2 separate regions of the Homo sapiens genome follow, and region 2 is linked to region 1. The links come from fine-mapping of genetic effects on gene expression. A gene starts in region 1. The other region holds a variant in brackets. All regions are shown on one strand. Distances are from middle to middle.

What was found. PIP is the estimated chance that this variant, and not a neighbour inherited with it, causes the effect.
Region 2: its variant is fine-mapped to the expression of FEZ1 in whole blood (TOPMed, PIP above 0.99).

What each region holds. Positions count from the first base shown.
Region 1 is chr11:125,489,844-125,500,815 of GRCh38, reverse strand. FEZ1 (fasciculation and elongation protein zeta 1) reads left to right here and starts at 4,551. Exons shown (of 10, transcript NM_005103.5): 1 at 4,551-4,695. It overlaps LOC403312 (putative uncharacterized protein MGC39545), which reads right to left and starts at 5,602. Exons shown (of 2, transcript NR_164146.1): 1 at 5,201-5,602; 2 at 1,290-4,308. RefSeq lists a silencer at 4,364-4,613 and enhancers at 4,488-4,989, 4,990-5,493, 5,996-6,499.
Region 2 is chr11:125,528,275-125,539,246 of GRCh38, reverse strand. No RefSeq gene overlaps it. Among named protein-coding and RNA genes, the nearest start is that of EI24, 36 kb to the left of the region's middle. RefSeq lists a silencer at 4,720-5,014 and a cis regulatory region at 6,103-6,576. The variant G/A (reference allele first, on the strand shown) is at 5,864.

The DNA of each region.
Region 1 (10,972 bases):
CACTTTGCCTGGAAATCTCAGCTAAATATACAAGTTCATCGCTTACAAGTTCTACTTGCCTTCCAAGAGCAGGACAAAATTCAGCCAAGTTCTCTGCCACTCTATAACACAGTTTGTCTTTTGTTCAGTTTCTAACAACAGTTCCTCATTTCCATCTTAGACCTTACCAGAATCACCTTTAACATTCATATTCCTATTTGTTATAATAATATATGTATTCTCTATGACCGTAGAAACTTTCTCTACAGTCTCCTCATTTCTGAAGCCTCACTAGAATTGCCCTTAATATTCATAATTATACCAACAGTCTCTTTGGGGCAATATAGGCTTTTTCTGTCATGTGTCTCAAACTTCTTCCAGCCTCTTTGCATTACGATGTTCCAAAGGCACTTCCACATTTTTAAATATTTGTTACAGCAGCATCCCACTTTCTACTACCAAAATTTGTACTAGTTTCCTAGGCCTGCCACGACAAATGATCTTTAAATAGAAATTTATGGTTTCATGGTTCTAGAGGCTGGAAGTCCAAAATCAAGCTGTCAGCAGGGCCATGCTACCTACTGAAGGTCCTGGGGAAGAATCTTTTCTTGCCTCATTCTAGCTTTGGGTGGTTCCTGGCAATCCTTGGTGTCATTTGGCTTGTACCTGAATTACTCCAATCTCTGCCTCCTTTCCTATGCATGCTCTCCTCTTGTATTTTTTGTTTTTGTTTTTGACATAGTCTTGCTTTGTCACCTGGGCTGGAGTACAGTGGCATGATCTCAGCTCACTGCAACCTGCGCCTCCCCGGTTCTAGCGATTCTCCTTCCTCAGCCTCCCAGGTAGCTGGGATTATAGGTATGTGACACCACACCCTGCTAATTTTTTTTTTTTTTTAATTTTTAGTAGAGATGGGGTTTCGCCATGTTGTCCAGGCTGGTCTCGAACTCCTGACCACAGTTGATCTACTCACCTCCCAAAGTGCTAGGATTACAGGTGTGAGCCACCATGCCCAGCCTCCTCTCCTCTTCTTATAAGGACACCAGTCATTGGATTTAGGGCCTACCCGAATCTAGTATGACCTCATCATAACTGATTACATCTGTAAAAGTCACATTCTGAGGTTCTGAGTAGACACAAATTTTAGGAAAATACCATTCAATCCACTGCAGGTTCTAAGCAGCAGAGTTTGGAAATCAACATACTAAACATGGAACCTCTTGAAAGCATGCCTTCATTTTTAGCTCCCCAGCTTCTAGCCTAGGTCATGGAATGCAACCAATGCTTGCTGGAATTTGTACACCGATGTTGACAGCAGCATTATTTTTTTATTCTTTCTTTCTCACTCTAATCCCATGACAGATTAGTAGCATTATTCACAATAGCCAAAAGGTGGAAACAATCCAAATGTCCATGGGCAGATGAATAGATAAACAAAATGTAGTATATACATACCATGGAATATTATTTACCTTAAAAAGAAAAGAAATTCTGACATTGTTGCAACATAGATTAACCTTGAAAACATTGTGCTAAGTGAAATAAGTCAGATACAAAAAACAAATATTGTATAATTACACTTACATGAGGTACTTAGAATAGTCAAATTCTTAGAGACAAAATTAGAATAGTGGTTACCAGGGGCTGGGGAAGGGAGTACTGGGGAGTTAGTGTTTAATGGATACAGAGTTTCTGTTTGGATAACAAAATTTCTGTAGATGAATAGTGGTGGTGGTTACACAGCAATGTGAATGTGTTTAATACCAGTGAATTGTACACTTAAAAATGGTTAAAATAGTAATTTTTATGTTATATATATCTTACTACAATAAAATAAGTGTTTGCTGGAAGAATAACTGGGCTCATGTTCAGGGATTTCTCATCCTAGGTACCTAGCCTAGGCTACTTGTCCTCAGCTTTCAGTTTCTTCATAGCCTCACAAAAATAACCACAGAATCCACTAATTGGTTTCTTATTATATGCCAGGCACTGTGCTAAGCATTTTGCATGCATTATATTACTTAATATGCATAACAACAACCTTGTAGTAGATATTGGCATCCAACAGCAGATATTGGCATCTCCATTTTACAGATGAGAAAACTGAGGTACAGAGAGGATAACTAACAAGGTCACCAGCTGAAGACCAAGTTCTTTATCACTTTCAGTACTTCACAAGCTTCTCTCAAATCTGTTTGTCCCATGCTCTGAAGATCTAGACAAAAGATGGCCTCAAATTAGCCAAGACATATATATATATACATATATATACACATATATATATACACACACACACATATATATACACACACACATATATATATACACACACACATATATAGGACATCTATATGAGACATATATATGGGACATCTATATGAGACATACATGTGGGACATCTATATGAGACATACATGTGGGACATCTATATGAGACATACATGTGGGACATCTATATGAGACATACATGTGGGACATCTATATGAGACATACATGTGGGACATCTATATGAGACATACATGTGGGACATCTATATGAGACATACATGTGGGACATCTATATGAGACATATATGTGGGACATCTATATGAGACATATATGTGGGACATCTATATGAGACATATATGGGACATCTATATGAGACATATATATGGGACATCTATATGAGACGTATATATGGGACATCTATATGAGACATATATATGACATATATATGTGTGTGTGTATATATATACACACATACATACATATAGTGCCTTCTAATAAACCTGGAAGTACTTTACTCATATTCACTCCTTTAATCCCACAACAGGCCACAATAGAGTGGGGCACTATTATTTTCTTTCTTTTTTTTTTTTTTGAGTCGGAGTCTCGCTCTGTCACCCAGGCTGGAGTGCAGTGGCGCAATCTCGGCTCACTCCAAGCTCCGCCTCCTGGGTGCACGCCATTCTCAGCCTCCCGAGTAATTGGGACTACAGGCGCCCGCCACCACGCACAGCTGATTTTTTGTATTTTTGGTGGAGATGGGGTTTCACCGTGTTAGCCAGGATGGTCTCGATCTCCTGACCTCGTGATCCGCCCGCCTCGGCCTCCCAAAGTGCTGGGATTACAGGCGTGAGCCACCGCGCCCGGCGGGCACTATTATTTTCTTCATTTTACAGATGAGGAAATGAGCCACAGGGAAGTTAACTAACCCAAGGTCACAAAACTGGGCATGATCCCAAGAAAGGAGATCTAGGGATCTTTTAACCAGCTACTCTTTGTGATTTATTTATTTATTTATTTACTTTTGAGACAAGGTCTTGCTGTCGCCCAGGCTGGAGTGCAGCTTCAACCTCTTGGGCTCAAGCGATCCTCCCACCTCATCCTCCAGTGTAGCTGGGGCTACCAGGATGGGCTACCAGGATGGGCCCACCATGCCTGGCTAATTTTTTTTTTTTTATAGAGATGGGGTCTCACTATGTTGCCTAGGCTGGTCTTGAACTCCTGGCCTCAAGTGATCCTCCTGCCTCAGCTTTCCAACATGTTGGGATTATAGGTGTGAGCCACCGTGCCTGGCCTTATGATTTCTTACAGGAAGACATCCTCTGTCTATTGCTCCCACAAAGGCAAATAGGCCAACGCTTCTTCTCATCTCATTGGGACATTATTCCTGTTTCCATCCTTCTCATGGTTGAAATGTCTGTGGAATGAATGCATAAACGAGCAAAAGAGACGCTCCCTGCCCCTTCCAGTTGAAGTCCTCAGTTCAGCCCAGAGGTACTTTGCCATCAGACAAAAGTACTTGGGGTTCTCCAAGCCGACATGCTTTTTCCAGTGCCTTCCTTCGATAATTACAGTTCTTGTGCTCTTAGTTGTGTGTATTCGTGAATTATTAGATTTTTTATTGACAACTTCTATAAGCACAGGCCTATGCACAGTAGACAAGATAAATTAATAATTTTTCACAAGACTCCAGGGACCCTTCTCATTTCAGCCTCTTGAATTTTCCTGTATTATCTCAAGTCCTCCTGGGCCTGAAACCTTCTCACTCAGATTTTTCAGCTGGATCCAGCTCCCACCCAGCATCTTTGGGCGAGAAAAGCTCTCCTGCCGGCCTCCTCATTTTTGGCTTGAGGTCCGAACCCAGTTGGAGCTGGGAGACGTCGCTGGGCCTGCCCGCCTCAGCCTCCAGTAGAGGAGAATGGGAAACTCGGAAAGTCCAAAAGGGTCTTTGAGTGTGTCTGCCGGCATCCGCCAGCAGCCATCGCCTGCATTTTATCCAGAAACTAGTGTCAGGCTTTGCGAGGTATCCATATTGGTAGTTATTGCACGCTTTCATCTTGGAGTTTCTGAATATTCATGAGGGAAGCAGAAAGGCCAATGTTAAAGAGGAGAGAAACAGAAATGCATAAATATTAATAAAGGCAAGCCCACGTGCTCGGAGGAAGGCTATGAATGTTAACGAGGGGATGACGTCCAGCTCCCGCGCGTGCCAGTTGGGTGGGTGCCCGAGCGCGGGCGCGCCCCCGGAGCCCGGGCACGAGCGCGGGGAAGGGGTGGGGTGGAGGCGGGAGCGGAGCCGGGCGCCGCCGGAGCTGCGCGGGGAGCGCTCGCTGGCTGGCTGGCTGGCTGGCTCTCCGCTGCGCTGCGCTGCGCTCCGGCCGCTCCCGCGGCCCGTGGATGGGGGTGTCCGGCTGAGCCCCGGGATCCGCCTCCCTCCGCCAGGACCCGCACAGGTGCCGTCGCGGGGGTTGACTTTAGTTAGGACCCGACTCACTGCTGGGGGTGGGGTCTGGTGGGGGTGGTAAGGAGGCCCCGGGATTCTCTGACAGGACGGTCTGGGGTCGCCGCAGCTCCCCTCACCTGGTCCCATTCTGGGATTAGAAAGGAACAACGGGAGGCCGTCGCCTTCCTGCCCAGCCCTTCAGGGAGCGCAGCTGGGACGCCGCGCCAGGCCCTGGAGATGTGGGATGATGGGCACTTCCAGTATCATCTCAGCATCGGCCCTCCAGCCAGGCCTGGTGTGTGTGTGTGTGTGTGTGTGTGTGTGTGTGTGTCCGCGTGTGTGTGCCCGCGTGTGTGCGCGCGTGTGAAGGCAGGGCGGCGAGGTATGGGGGCTGGGGGAAGAAGGGAACGCCGCCCGATCGCGCTGGGGCAGTGGGTCGGTACCTCGTCCCGGGACCGTTATCTGGTCCAGTCACCGTAAACGCCCCAAGATCATCTTTGTCCCTAAAAACTTACCCCCGACCCCGCTCGTGCCCCTCCCCAGAGTGCGGAGCCTTCCCCAGACCGCGCATTCCTGCAGTGTCAGAACCGCTGGCAGCGGCCGCAGACGCCGGGAGAGCGATTGTTTTACTACAGACGGGCGGGAGAAGGGACCGGGGCGGCTGCGCGGTGGCGGGGCGCGCTGCCGTCGGGTGGGCCCCGGGCTCTGGAATGCGGGGAGCAGTGTTTGACGGCGTCGAGGAGGTATCACAGCCCGCTCTTCTTCCCTTTTGCCTATCCCTTCTCTCCTCGCCGCTAGGCATCCCCGACTCTCATCCCTCTCCCGTGTCCGGGCTTGTTTGGCCGGAAGGGCAGTGGAGTGTGTATGCGGCCTGCACGGGATGAGTCCGGCTTCCTCAGAGTGCCAGCCATTGTGCTGCCTGGAGGAGGCTTTCTTTACCCCACCGGACTGGGGGGAGGAGGGGGATCTGAGATGGAGGTGAATGGAGCAGCGGGAGGAGGGGGAGGGGAGCAAGCAGAACCGCGAAGGGGTTGCTGATCCATATGCAACGAAATACTTTTTCTGTCAAAATGTGCACAAACATGCACACTGGGTGGGTTCTGCGGAGGAGCAGTGGGAAATCTGAAGGTGGATCAGTGCAGGGTAGGTTTTAGGGACGGATATGGGGGACGAGGCACGGAATCAGTTGATCTATGGACCAAGTGATGGGAAGAAGGAGATGGAATGGGGCTTGTGTGGAGGTGCCGAGGCCCAGCGGGGTTAGCGTGGTGAAATCTCCACCGCTCCGCTCCACTCGGGTCAGCTCAGCAAAGCAGGGACTGAGCATTTGTACCGCAGCCCCGAGATGCAGCGAGTGCATCATTGTGCTGCAGGGAGACGTTTATGCGTTTCCTACTGGGTCTCTGTTAAGCCCCGTGAGTGTCTTTTCTTTTCCAAATTACACCATCTATTGGGAGTGAAAATAAATGGAATAGATTGTAGGACAATCAGACTATAGTCCTGCGCTCTGTTCTGTGGTAAAGAGAAAAAGAAAAGGCGACCCTCCCATGGTTCCTTCTTTCTGCCATTTTCATGTATGTACGTATTTATTTTTGATCTTGGAAGTCTAAAGGGAATAAGCTATCGCTTGTATTAATCCTACTTTAAGGAAAAGAAGGCTCCCAGATGAGCTATGAATGAGGATGGTGCAAGCTTGCCAGGATGGAAAATAAGGTTGTTTCAGACATTTTAGTTGAAGGATGAAAGCACTCCGTGAAGAGAGGAGGGCGAAAGAAAGTGGGCTAAAGGAAGGAAGGCAGGGTCACCATCTAAGGAAGTGCTGCCAACCCCAATCCACAGAGCCCTCCTGGAGGCTATAGTGGGGCCAGTCAGAACGCCTGACTCTCATCTGTGCCACAGCCTGAGGTCTTTCCACAAATGCTGGATTCAGTTTGGGTGTTGAGTGACTAGTTTCCCAGCACTGGCTTTCACTTTAACTTCATCTCCAGATGGTCATTCATGCAGCACTTCTTGGCTCTTGGATAATGAGTTGACAAAAAACAATCAGTCTATATTATGGACTGTTTCAAATGAGCATGTGTCTGAACCCTAGAGCTGTGATATTCATTTCGTCTTTTATAATTTTCTAGATGAATCCATTTTCTCTACACTCTGCCTGGGCAGAGTGCTTTCAGCACACTCTTCCTGTTGCCAACACTCAAAACTCAGTCTTAGTCCTAGATTCTGGTTGGATTGGCCTCTTGTTGCTGGTTAATCATATAGACTGTGTCATTTCAAATCAGAAACCCCACTGGTGTCACCATCTGCTTCTCCCCTGTCATTCCCAGAGAAAAGTACAAATTTAAAGGCAGTGTAAATACCTGCAACACTATCGGATTGGCTTTCATATCTCTGTAAAATGGAACCCACGATCCAGGAACCTTTGAACAAATAAATTGAAAAAAGAAGCCTTAGTAAAAAAGATGCTAAAATTCTTTCAGCAATAGTTCTCTTGTTTGATAAGCATATTGAAGCATTGCACAGAGAATATCATGGCAGGGATAATTTTTCTTTTACTTGAAGCACTCCCACATCACCTTTCTTTCTTTCTTTCTTTCTTTCTTTCTTTCTTTCTTTCTTTCTCTCTTTCTTTCTTTCTTTCCTTCTTTCCTTCTTTCCTTCTTTCCTTCTTTCCTTCTTTCCTTCTTTCCTTCTTTCCTTCTTTCCTTCTTTCTTTCTTTCTTTCTTTCTTTCTTTCTTTCTTTCTTTCTTTCTTTCTTTCTTTCTTTTCTCTCTTTCTTTCTTTCTTTCTTTCTTGAGATGGAGTTTCGCTCTTGTTGCCCAGGCTGGAGTGCAATGGCATGATCTCGGCTCACTGCAACCTCTGCCTCTTGGGCTCAAGCGATTCTCCTGCCTCAGCCTCCCAAGTAGCTGGGATTACAGGCACCTGCCACCATGCTCAGCTAATTTTTTTTTTTTGTATTTTTAGTAGAGACAGGGTTTTGCCATGTTGGCCAGGCTGGTCTTGAACTCCTGACCTCAGGTGATCCACGCACCTCAGCCTCCCAAAGTGCTGGGATTACAGGCATGAGCCACTGTGCCCAGCCCCCACATCACATTTCTATGTAAGTTAGCTATCCTGGTTTTCCTAGAATTATTTTTAACTTTTTTTTTTTTTTTTTTAAAGATAGGGTCTCACTTTGTCACCCAGGCTGGCATACAGTAGTGTGATCATAGCTCACTATAGCCTCAAACTCATGGGCTCAACCAATCCTCCTGCCTCAGCCTCTCCAGTTGCTGGGATTACAGGTGTGAGCCACCGTGCCCAGCTTTGATTTTTCTAGAATGATTGATATTTATTGGATGCTTTCTATATTCTGCACATTGTACTTAACACTTCAAAGATGATCTCATTTAGTCCAAAAAGTAATCTTCAAGGGAAGCACTGTTTTAAACTCCATTTTATAGATGATGAAATTGAGGCACAGTGAGGTTGATAACTTGCCCAAAGTCTCCCAACTAGGAGTGACAGGACCAGGACAGGAACCCAAAGCCTATGCTCTTAGCCATCACAGAGTACTGCCTTAATCAACACAAATCCCTGGGCTGTGAAAACTGTTTTACTCTCTACTGCATTCTGCCATCTTTTCTAATCTCACTTTTTTGTTGCTCAGGGATTCTTAATCTTTTTTGCACTATGACCTCCTTTGGTGGTATGGAGAAGCCTGTGGGCTCCTTCTCCAAATAATGTTTTTAAATGCATAAAATAAAATACTTAGTCTTGTAAAGGAAACCAATTTCATTGAAATATAGTTACCTTCAAAGAGCCTGCAGGGGTCTATGTACTGAAGATGAAGAACCCCTGACTGGCAATTACTTGTGTTTGCTTTAGAGCTGTGTTGTCCCTTGCGGTAGCCACAGGCCACATTTGACTGTTGAGCACTTGCAATGTGGCTAGTCCAAAGTGAGATGTACTGTAAATGGAAAATATACACTGGATTTCAAAGGGCTTAGTATAAAAAAAGAATAAAAACTGCCTCATTAGTTTTTTTGTGGATTACATTTTGAAATGGTAACACTTTGGATATATTGGATTAAATAAACATATTACTTCAATCAAAATGATTAATTAAATTATTGATTTATTAAAAATAACTCCTAAAGATGTTAACTCTGTACCAACACCTTCCTTATAACAAATGAGGAAATCAGGACCAATGATGCTTGTCACTCAGCCAGCCATTGGCAGATCTGTTGGCTCTCGAGCCTGTCTTCTTTCCAAGATATGGTACTACTTGTATATATTTTTGTATTCAAAGGTCCTATCATGTTGCCTTTGCAAACTGTAAATGCTCCAAATATGTTTTAAAGCAACGGTAATCAACTTAATCCCAGCAAAATCCCGGTACAAACTGGCAGTGTTCTTGCCTGGCATGTCCTTTGCCTTGCTTATTTAGAGTTTTAGTTTTGTAGGTAGAGATGGAGAATGGGCACTCCTAGGGCAAAATCCATGAATTTTGCTGTCTGGTTCCCCTCAGGAAGCGCCTCCAATTTGAGCACCTAACTATATCAATAACCCTATAGACCGAAGAGAAAAGCTTGGTAGCCTTTCTGTTGAGCGTGTAGAGAAGGGTATGATAGTCAGCAATGCTTGTGCTGCCTGAAACTGAAAATGGAAAACTGTATGTGGGAGATAGATCATTTTTTCAACGAGCACATATTGATTGACTGCCTAGCCACAGGGTAGGCAGTGTATATTTGGAGCCAGGGAAGATATCCAGAGGATTTCTGTGTCCTCGAGGAATTTAAGTTAAAATTGAATGGGGCCCAGATGTACACACAGATGGATAAATCACAGTTGGAAGCAGTGCATGAAGATGGCCCGATGAGGGGTAGAGGTCCCACAGTTGGTGGGAACTGAAGGGAGTTCTGTGTGTGCAGCGTTCCAGGGTGCAGTGCCCAAGATGGTTATGGAGTATGGCTTTGGAGCACATGGGTAGTTGGGTCTGTTTCTTACAGGATACAGGATAATAGATCATTTAGTCTATTCCTCTGCTCCTAGGCATATGCTCTATGTGTGGGAAAACCTTGGGTGCTTGTCTGGGCACGGTGGCTCATGCCTGTAATCCCAGAACTTTGGGAGGCTGAGGCAGGTAGATCACCTGAGGTCAGGAGTTCGAGACCAGCCTGGCCAACATGGTGAAACCCCATCTCTACTAATAATACAAAAATTAGCTGGGTGTGGTGGCACACGCAGCTACTTGGGAGGCCAAGGCATGAGGATTGGTGGAACCCAGAGGTGTAGGTTGCAGTGAGCTGAGATCACACCACTGCACTCCAGCCTGGGCCACAGAGTGAAGCTATGTCTCAAAAGCGAAACGAAACAAAAACAACTCAGGCATTTATTGGAAGGTCTCTATTGATGTTTTATTAGTTTTTTTAAAAAAATAAAAATAGAGATGGGACCTTACTATGTTGCCCAGGCTGGTCTTGAACTCCTGAGTGAGCTCAAATGATCCTCCCACCTCAACCTCCCAAAGTGCTGGGATTACAAGCATGAGCCACCACATCCAGCCAATGTTTTATTAGTTTCTACTATTTATTGATAAGGGTAGTAATATCTAGGTATACAAACCCTTATCCAAAACCCCTGGGGCCAGGCATTTGGAATTCAGATTATTTCAGATTTTGGAAAGTAGTAATAGAGTGTACATTCCGCATTTCATCCAGTGGGATCTGGGATAGCAATCTTTGTAATTAAAAAGTTAATATTTCTGCAGCAAAACACACAAAATGGGATAAATTAAAGCCATGAACAGCTTTATATTCATGTTGGTCATGTTTAGTTGCCAGATGAGTTTAGATCATGTCACATTTTGCTGCCAAACAAGTCATGGAGAATTTTCAGCTTTCAGATCACATAGTTAAGGATATGGATCTGTGGTAATAGTAATAGTAATAAAAATAATAATACTAAAACACCAACAGAAAGTATTCAATAATATTGGCACTTATTATCTTCCAGGTACTGTTTTAAGCACTCACCTGTGTTTACTCCTTTAGTCTTCTAACAGCCCTTTGAGGTGGGTTCAGTATTATATCTGTCTTGAGAAGAATAAGAAGCACAGAGCAATTAATCACTTGCCCAAGGTCACAGCTGGTAGGACAGAACAGAATGCAAACCTAGACGATCTTGTCCAGGAGCTTCGTACTTAACCAGTGCCTTGTTTTTTGGAGTAGGGAATTGGAAGCAGGTGTGTCTCTAAAGTTAACTCTATTATTTAGATTAGCCTGGTCTAAACTCACAT
Region 2 (10,972 bases), 38 kb before region 1:
CATTTGCTGAGGAGAGCTTTACTTCCAACTATGTGGTCAATTTTGGAATAGGTGTGGTGTGGTGCTGAAAAAAGTGTATATTCTGTTGATTTGGGGTGGAGAGTTCTGTAGATGTCTATTAGGTCTGCTTGGTGCAGAGCTGAGTTCAATTCCTGGGTATCCTTGTTGACTTTCTGTCTCGTTGATCTGTCTAATGTTGACAGTGGGGTGTTAAAGTCTCCCATTATTAATGTGTGGGAGTCTAAGTCTCTTTGTAGGTCACTGAGGACTTGCTTTATGAATCTGGGTGCTCCTGTATTGGGTGCATAAATATTTAGGATAGTTAGCTCCTCTTGTTGAATTGATCCCTTTACCATTATGTAATGGCCTTCTTTGTCTCTTTTGATCTTTGTTGGTTTAAAGTCTGTTTTATCAGAGACTAGGATTGCAACCCCTGCCTTTTTTTGTTTTCCATTGGCTTGGTAGATCTTCCTCCATCCTTTTATTTTGAGCCTATGTGTGTCTCTGCACGTGAGATGGGTTTCCTGAATACAGCACACTGATGGGTCTTGACTCTTTATCCAACTTGCCAGTCTGTGTCTTTTAATTGCAGAATTTAGTCCATTTATATTTAAAGTTAATATTGTTATGTGTGAATTTGATCCTGTCATTATGATGTTAGCTGGTGATTTTGCTCATTAGTTGATGCAGTTTCTTCCTAGTCTCGATGGTCTTTACATTTTGGCATGATTTTGCAGCGGCTGGTACCAGTTGTTCCTTTCCATGTTTAGCGCTTCCTTCAGGAGCTCTTTTAGGGCAGGCCTGGTGGTGACAAAATCTCTCAGCATTTGCTTGTCTATAAAGTATTTTATTTCTCCTTCACTTATGAAGCTTAGTTTGGCTGAATATGAAATTCTGGGTTGAAAATTCTTTTCTTTAAGAATGTTGAATATTGGCCCCCACTCTCTTCTGGCTTGTAGGGTTTCTGCCGAGAGATCCGCTGTTAGTCTGATGGGCTTTCCTTTGCGGGTAACCTGACCTTTCTCTCTGGCTGCCCTTAACATTTTTTCCTTCATTTCAACTTTGGTGAATCTGACAATTATGTGTCTTGGAGTTGCTCTTCTCGAGGAGTATCTTTGTGGCGTTCTCTGTATTTCCTGAATCTGAACGTTGGCCTGCCTTGCTAGATTGGGGAAGTTCTCCTGGATAATATCCTGCAGAGTGTTTTCCAGCTTGGTTCCATTCTCCACATCACTTTCAGGTACACCAATCAGACGTAGATTTGGTCTTTTCACATAGTCCCATATTTCTTGGAGGCTTTGCTCATTTCTTTTTATTCTTTTTTCTCTAAACTTCCCTTCTCGCTTCATTTCATTCATTTCATCTTCCATTGCTGATACCCTTTCTTCCAGTTGATCGCATCGGCTCCTGAGGCTTCTGCATTCTTCACGTAGTTCTCGAGCCTTGGTTTTCAGCTCCATCAGCTCCTTTAAGCACTTCTCTGTATTGGTTATTCTAGTTATACATTCTTCTAAATTTTTTTCAAAGTTTTCAACTTCTTTGCCTTTGGTTTGAATGTCCTCCCATAGCTCAGAGTAATTTGATCGTCTGAAGCCTTCTTCTCTCAGCTCGTCAAAATCATTCTCCATCCAGCTTTGTTCTGTTGCTGGTGAGGAACTGCGTTCCTTTGGAGGAGGAGAGGCGCTCTGCGTTTTAGAGTTTCCAGTTTTTCTGTTCTGTTTTTTCCCCATCTTTGTGGTTTTATCTACTTTTGGTCTTTGATGATGGTGCTGTACAGATGGATTTTCGGTGTAGATGTCCTTTCTGGTTGTTAGTTTTCCTTCTAACAGACAGGACCCTCAGCTGCAGGTCTGTTGGAATACCCTGCCGTGTGAGGTGTCAGTGTGCCCCTGCTGGGGGGTGCCTCCTCCCAGTTAGGCTGCTCGGGGGTCAGGGGTCAGGGACCCACTTGAGGAGGCAGTCTGCCCGTTCTCAGATCTCCAGCTGCGTGCTGGGAGAACCACTGCTCTCTTCAAAGCTGTCAGACAGGGACACTTAAGTCTGCAGAGGTTACTGCTGTCTTTTTGTTTGTCTGTGCCCTGCCCCCAGAGGTGGAGCCTACAGAGGCAGGCAGGCCTCCTTGAGCTGTGGTGGGCTCCACCCAGTTCGAGCTTCCCGGCTGCTTTGTTTACCTAAGCAAGCCTGGGCAATGGCGGACGCCCCTCCCCCAGCCTCGTTGCTGCCTTGCAGTTTGATCTCAGACTGCCGTGCTAGCAATCAGCGAGACTCCGTGGGCGTAGGACCCTCTGAGCCAGGTGTGGGATATAGTCTCGTGGTGCGCCGTTTCTTAAGCCGGTCTGAAAAGCGCAATATTCGGGTGGGAGTGACCCGATTTTCCAGGTGCGTCCGTCACCCCTTTCTTTGACTCGGAAAGGGAACTCCCTGACCCCTTGCGCTTCCCAGGTGAGGCAATGCCTCGCCCTGCTTCGGCTCACGCACGGTGCACGCACCCACTGGCCTGCGCCCACTGTCTGGCACTCCCTAGTGAGATGAACCCGGTACCTCAGATGGAAATGCAGAAATCACCCGTCTTCTGCGTCGCTCACGCTGGGAGCTGTAGACCGGAGCTGTTCCTATTCGACCATCTTGGCTCCTCCCTTCCATATTGAACTTTTATAAGAACATTAAAAAAAGGTTTTCTGCCAGGTATGGTGGCTCACGCCTGTAATCCCAGCACTTTGGGAGGCCGAGGTGGGTGGATCACGAGGTCAGGAGATCAAAACCATCCTGGCTAACGTGGTGAAACCCTGTCTCTACTAAAAATGCAAAAAAAAAAATTAGCCGGGCGTGGTGGTGGGCACCTGTAGTCCCAGCTACTCAGGAGGCTGAGGCAGGAGAATGGTGTAAACCCAGGAGGTGGAGCTTGCAGTGAACCAAGATCACGCCACTGCACTCCAGCCTGGGTGACAGAGTGAGACTCCATCTTAAAAAAAAAAAAAAAAAGGTTTTCTGTAATTTTTAAATTGGATTGGAAATTACCCAGATCCTTAATATCAATTAATAACCTTAGATTCTAAATTATATGGCAAGTTTGTTTATAAGCATTTATTTCATTACATTTACTTGATTATTTAATAGTTTATCTAGATTATTCACAACACTGTGTGTGATAGTCATTATTTAAAGTTATTTCCCTGTTAACCTTTTTTTTTTTTGAGACGGAGTCTTGCATATACATATACAGCATCGATCAGTATATGTAAGATGTATGTTGGTTTGGTCCAGAGCAGAAGGATTACTGGAAGCAGAAGCAGTGGTGGGGTGGGGGACAGGGTTGGAAGAAGCCTCCATGTCATAGATGGATTCAAAGATTTTCTGTTTGGCAATTGGTTGAAAGAGTTTATCTATAGACCTGGAATCAATAGAATGAAGTGTCTGGGTTAGGATAAAAGGTCATGGAGATCAATATTCCTTTTATGCAGATGAAGCTCCCAGGCAACAGGCTTCAGAGATAATAGATTGTAAATGTTTCTTATCAGACTTAAAAAGGTGCCAGACTTTTGGTTAATTCTCTCCTGGATCAGGAAAAAGACCTGGAAAGGGAAGAGGATTCTGTACAGAATGCAGATATCCCCGTGAGAGACAGCTTTACAGGGCCATTTCAAAATGTGTCAAAGAAATGTATTTTAGGGTAAAATACTTCAATTTCTTTCAGGGCCTGCTATCTGTTATGTGATGCTATAATAGAGTCAGTTTGGCATTTAGTGTCTTATCGTTACAAAGAATCTGTTTGATGTCAGTCTTAGGATGACAGTCTTAAGATCTGTGTCTTAATGTTAATGTTGGTCAGTTGTCCCTGAATTTCAAAGGGAGGAGGGTACAATGAGGCATATTTAACCCCCCTTCCCATCATGGCCTGGACTAGTTTTTCAGGTTAACTTTGGAATGCCCTTGAGCAAGAGGAGGGGTCCATTCCACTGGTTGGGGGGCTTAGAATTTTACATTTGGTTTTGCAAGAGTCTGTTTTTAAGCTGGGAGAAAATAGAATATTTTTATAAAAGGAAAGATCCAGAAACAAAGGAAAGTTGAAGAAATCAGGATGATAACCTAGAGGAAGATTCTTGAAGAGGTTTGAGAGAGGATAAAATTAAAAGTTCTGTGGAGTCTTTTCTATTTCTTAAGGCAAGGGGTGGGGAATTTATCAGAAATGGAGATTCTAAGGATTGACAGCAGAGATTTTGATTTAGTATATCAGGGATGGAACACAGACATTAACACTTTAAACCAGCCCTCCATGTCTTTGCTACATAGGTAGTCCAACAGTGCTCTGAGGCAGTGATAAATGCAGAAAGGGTAAAGTGCTTGGAGTAAAAGGATTTTTGTTATCATCCTTGATTTGCCCTTTTACTTACCATCAGGAAGGCTTTGTGTTTCTCGTTTTGGTTTGGTTTGGTTTATGTTGTTTTAGTGCCCATGCATCATATACTGTGCAAGCCTCTAGAAAAGGTTATTTAATTTCTCCAAGCTTCAGATCTTCATCTGTAATAATATTATCTGCCCCAGAGTAATGCTGAGAATCAAATTAAATTATATATGAGGCTATCTTCTTCTTCTGGCCAAGATGTAGTAACAGAGACTAGATTTACCCTCCTACAGGAAACAACTACAAAAACCTGACAACATACATGAAATAATAGTTTTCAGATATTGGACATCAGGTGATAGAGGACAGCGATCCCTGAGATGGGAGAAACAAATGAGATGATCCCTACTTCTGCCCCATCTTACTGTATGGAAGATACAGCACAGAGAGTGGAAACCCAGGTGGAACCTAGCAGTCTCCCTGAATTTACAAGATGGAATTGGGAGTCTTGGGAGGCAAGGTGGCTTAAGTTTGCAGGGCAGAATGCTGAAGAGGAAAGAGTGCAGAGATAGGGGTGGAAGCTCCAAGATCATGTCTTCAGCTGAGTATACATCAGTGTAAGCATATGAGGAAACTACCTTAGTTTGAGGAAGAGACACTAAAATGATTCAAGGAAATAATTCCTAAACTTCTCAAAGAGCTAGGAATATTTTGCATTTCCATAAGCCAGAAAGGAAATATATATATCATAATTATGTATAATAATTTTATACATCAATTATAATTATTTAAACAGGGTCTTACTCTGTCACCCAGGCTGGAGTGCAGTGGCATGAAATGGCTGACTGCAGCCTTTACCTCCCAGACTCAAGCAGTCCTCCCACCTTGGCAGCCCGAGTTGCTGAGACTGTGGGCATGGGCCACCATATTCAGCTAATTCTTGTATTTTTTGTGGAGACAGAGCTTCACTATGTTGCCCAGGCTGGTCTTGTACTCCCGGGCTCAAGCAATCTGCCTGCCTCAGCCTCCCAAAGTTCTGGGATTACAGGGATGAGCCACTGCACTTGGCATATATATACATAGATATACACACACATATACATATATATATATAATTAGTAAATGATATTGTTTAAAATAATTCCTAAAAGAGTATTTCCTCAGGACTGGGAAAAATTAGTCTTGTAATAAAGGCTGCTCTGGTCCTCCCTAACAAAGTTTAAACATCATCCCCATCCTTGAAAGTAAGTGTTCCAAGCAAGTTAACTGTATCCCTGAAAAAAAGCTCAAGAATATGTATATAAATATAAAAATATCCACCTCCCAACAAGAAAACATTCAGAGCATCTTACATTCAACCAAAAATGCCCAGACATGGAAAAATCAGGAAAATATGACATATAATGAGAATAATCAATCAATGGAAACAGATCTGTAAATGACACAAATGATATAATAACTAAAGGCATAAAAGAGTTACTTTAACTGTATTTCATATGTTTAATAAGGTAGAGAAAAAAT[G/A]AGCAAGTTAAATAGACTGGAAGGTTTTTAAAGGTCCAAATTGAATTAGAGACTTAAACTACAATGTCTAAAATGAAAAATATGTTATTCATTCAGAGCAAGATTCTGTCTCAAAAAAAAAGTTTTTAACTTCTTTTTTTCCCACTTTTTTGGGGGATATCAGCTCCAGCTTATTGAGTTAATGGCACTTCTCAGTTCCTAGTATACTCCCCTCCCTTTCTGTGTCCTTAACTATAAAATGTTCCAAGTGTGTGATATATGTCCATTTTATTGGAGTATCTTCTCGTGAAATGTGAACTCTTTTATGATATGTATATATTTTTAATTTATATAAATTATGCTATAGGTCTCAGCTTGTTTCTTACTTTTTTTCACTCAGCAGTGTTTTGAAGATCATTCAGGTTGATATGTGGACGTTTAGTTCACTAATCTCATTGCTGCCTAAGGAACCAGTTTGTCCTGACAGTACTGCAGGCCCCAAGGAACCCTTAGAGCATTATCTGTAAAGTCAGATGTTTGTAGGCCCCAGAGCAGATTAACTGGGTGGAGATGCAAGTAGTTGCGGCCATATGGCAACGCAGGACATGTTGCAAGACAACCAAATTCTTCAAGAGAGGCCAGGAATCAGGATTTTTGCAAGAAATCTCCTGATTTTTTCAATGTTGGAAAAACTGAAGGTCAAACAAAATATTTCTGCAAGCTCAATTTAGCCATTTTCTAACCTTCACATTAAAACATTTGAATCAGAGAATGAGATCAGATTTGTGTTTCAAAAATTAAAGAAAAGATGGACTAGAATAGAACAGAGGAGTCCAAAGATCATGAGTTGAGGTATAAATATGATTGAATTGAAGGGCCTATGGGCCGTTAAGGTGAAGATTATTGGAAACACAGACCTATCTTCCTGAAAATGTTGTGAGGAGTGGGGATTTTTTACGATATAAATCATTATTACATAGATTTGGGCATACTGTGATTCAAGTTAAAATGTATAAGTCGGCTGGGCACAGTGGCTCACGCTTGTAATCCCAACACTTTGGGAGGCTGACGTGGGTGGATCACCTGAGGTCAGGAGTTTGAGACCAGCCAGACCAATATGGTGAAACCCCATCTCTACTACAAAAAAAAAAAAAAAAATTAGCTGGGCGTGGTGGCGGGCGCCTGTAGTCCCAGCTACTCGGGAGACTGAGACAGGAGAATTGCTTGAACCCAGGAGGCAAAGGTTGCAGTAAGCTGAGATTGCGCCACTGCACTCCAGTCTGGGTGACAGAGTGAGACTCCGTCTCAAAAATAATAATAATATAATGTATAAGTCATAATGTTGACATTTTAAATATATTTAAAATATTATTTTATATATTTGTTCTTTCATTTAACAAAACATATCAGTAAAATTCATACTCATAACTTTGCACAAGTGAAGTTCTATGCTTAAACACTTGGCACATTTTCTTTTGTAGTAGTTAAAACTGTGGTTTGGTGTCAGACTACTAAGTTAAAATCTCTGAATTATTGACTATATGTATATCTTTGGATAAGTTAGTTAACCTGTCTTTGTTTTGGTTTTATCATCTGTAAAAAAAAGGCTCTTTTAAAAGCTGACTTCTCAGGCCAGGCACGGTCTCACGCCTGTAATCCCAGCACTTTGGGAGGCTAAGGCGGGTGGATGTAGGCAGATCATTTGAGGTCAGGAGTTCGAGACCAGCCTGGTCAACATGGTGAAACACCGTCTGTACTAAAAATACACACACACACACACACACACACACACACACACACACAAATTATCCAGACGTGGTGGCGCATGCCTGTGGTCCCAGCTACCCGGGAGGCTGAGGCAGGAGAATTGCTTGAACCCAGGAAGCAGAGGTTGCAGTGAGCCGAGATCACTCCATTGCACTCCAACCTGGGTGACAGAGCGAGATCCTGTCTTAAGAAAAAAAAATTAGGCCGGGCGCAGTGGCTCATGCCTGTAATCCCAGCACTTTGGGAGGCCAAGGTGTGCGGATCACCTGAGGTCAGGAGTTTGAGACCAGCCTGGCCAACATGGTGAAACCCCGTCTCTACTAAAACTACAAAAATTAGCTGAGATCGCGCCACTGTACTCCAGCCTGGGCAACAGAGCGAGACATCATCTCAAAAAAAAAAAAAAAAAAAGTGACTTCTCATGGTACTAGCATAAAGACAGATATATAGACCAATGGAATAAAATAGAGTCTGAAAATAAACCTTGCATGTAAAGTCAGATGATTTTCAACAAGGTACCAAGACCATTCAATGGGGTAAGAACAGTCTTTTCAACACATGAGGCTGGGAAAACTGAATATCCACATGCAAAAGAATGAAGCTGGACCTCTACTTTACACCATATACAGAAATTAAGTCAGGCCAGGTGGAGTGGCTCACACCTGTAATCCCAGAAATTTGGTAGGCTGAGGCGGGTGGATGGCTTGAGCTCAGGAACTCGAGACCATCCTGGGAAACATGGCGAAACTCCATCTCCACACACACACACACACACACACACACACACACACACACAAATTAGCCAGGCATGGTGGTGTTCACCTGTAGTCCCAGCAACTCTTGCGGCTGAGGTGGGAAGATCACTTGAGCCAGGGAGGCGGAGGTTGCAGTGAGCTGAGTTTGTGCCACTGCTCTCCAGCCTGGTTGACAGAATGAGACCCTGTCTCAAAAAGAAAAAAAAAAAAGTCAAAGTGAAACAAATACCTAAATTTAAGAGTTCAAACTATAAAACCCTAAGAAGAAAACATAAACTAAAAACTTCATGACATAGGATTCTACAATAATTTTTTAGATAAGACATGAAAAGCACAGGCAGCAACAACAAAAATAGATAAATTACCCAATCTCTATTAAAAAAAATACAAAAAAATTAGCCAGGCATAGTGGCGGGCACCTGCAGTCCCAGCTACGCGGGAGGCTGAGGCAGGAGAATGGCATGAACCCGGAAGGTGGAGCTTGCAGTGAGCCGAGATCACACCACTGCACTCCAGCCTGGGCAACAGAGCAAGACTGTCTCAAAAAAAAAAAAATAGATACATTGAACTACATGATAATTTAAGACTTGTGCATCAAAGGACACTATCAACAGAAAAGACAACCTATGGAATGAGAGAAAATATTTGCAAATCATGTGTCTGGTAAGGGGTTACTATCCAGAATACATAAAGAACTCTCCCAACGTAACAACAAAAAACAAACAACCAGAGTAAAAAACGGTCAAATGACTTGAATAGACATTTCTTCAGTAATGACCAATAAACACATGAAAAGATGCTCAACACTACTAATTATTAGAGAAATGCAAATTGAAACCACAATGAGTTACCACTTCACTCCCATTAGGATGGCTACTATATAGATAAACAACAATGACAACAACAAAAACAAAACAGAAAATGACAAGCATTGACATGGATGTGGAGAAATTGGAACCCATGTACATTGCTGGTGGGAAGGTAAAATGGAGAAGCTATTGTAGAAAACACTATGGTGCCTCCTCAAAAAATTAAACATAGAATTACCCTATGATCCAGCAATTCTACTTTTAGGTGTATACCCAAAAAAAGTGAAGGTAAGAATTCAAACAGATATTTGTGTCTGTTCATAGTAGCAGCATTATTCACAACAGCCAAAATGTGGAAACAACCCAAGTGTCCACTAACGATGAATAGAGAGATGAAATGTGGCACATACAAGCAATAGGATATTATTCAAGGAATTAAAGCCTTTAATTTATTTTTATTTTTTATTATTTTTTTTTTTAGAGACAGAGTCTTGCTCTGTCAAACAGACTGGAGTGTAGTGGAAGAATCATGGCTCACTGGAGCGTTGACCTCCTCGGCTTAGGCAATCCACCACCTCAGCCTCCTGAGTAGCTGGGACTAGAGGTGTGCACCACCACCTCCAGCTAATTTTTAAATTTTTCTTTTGTAGAGACGGGGTTTTTCTATGTTGACCAGGCTGGTTTTGAACTTCTGGCCTCAAGCATTTTTCCTGCCTCAGCCTCCCAAAGTGCTGAGGTTATAGATGTGAGCCACCGTGCCTGCCCAAAGCCTTTAATATTATTAAAGAAATTACAGCCTGTAGAAAAAGCAAACTGTTTTCTCATCTGCTGTTTTCACATCTGCTCTCACATCATACCATAAAAGACTTCTGTGATCTCTCATCACCAAGAAATGAATGGAGATTTCTCCCCACCAACAACCAATCAATTAGTTCTGCAGCAGGGTCTTCAGCTGACACCAGCTGAGTATCCTCTAATTCAATTCAATTCTGACGCTGTTTACCTGGAGATGGCATTAGATCCCACCGGTTGAGGGCTCAGTCCCGCAAGACTGCCCACTACTTCTGATGCCAATTGTAAGCTCCATATTGTTTTACTCGTGCTTCTGACCAGTCAACAATACATTGGGCTTCCTAAAACACTCTCAATGGGTTTGATTTATTTGCTAAAGCAGCTCACAGAACTCAGGGAAACACATTTACTAGTTTATTGTAAAAGACATTACAAAGGTTACAGATAAAGGGATACATACGGTGAGTTATGAGGGAAGGCACATGGTGCTTCCATGCCCTCTCTGGGTATGGCACCCTCCAGGAACCTTCATGCATTTAGCTATCCAGAACATCCCCGAAGCCACCTGTTCTGGGTTTTTATCGAAGCTTCATTGTGTAGGCATGATTGATTAAATCATTGGCCGTGAGTGATCAACTTGACCTTCAACCCCCACCCCTTCCCAGAGGTTTGGGGGTGAGGTTGAAAGTCCCAACCCTCTAATGATGCTTTGGTCTTTGCAGTGACCAGCCCCCATCCCGAAGTTACCCAGGGCCTGCCAGTCACCAGTCAACTCATTAGTATACATAAAGACACTGATGTCTTTGGAGGTTCCAAGGATATTAGGAGTTGTATGACAGGAGACAGGGACAAAAACCAAATATATATTTCACAGTATCCCATAAAGCCTCAAAGGAATTGGAAAAGAAATTCTGATCCATGCTACAATATGAATAAGCCTTGAAAATATTTTGCTAAATGAAAGAAGCCAGACACAAAAGGACAAATATTGTATGACTCCTTTATTT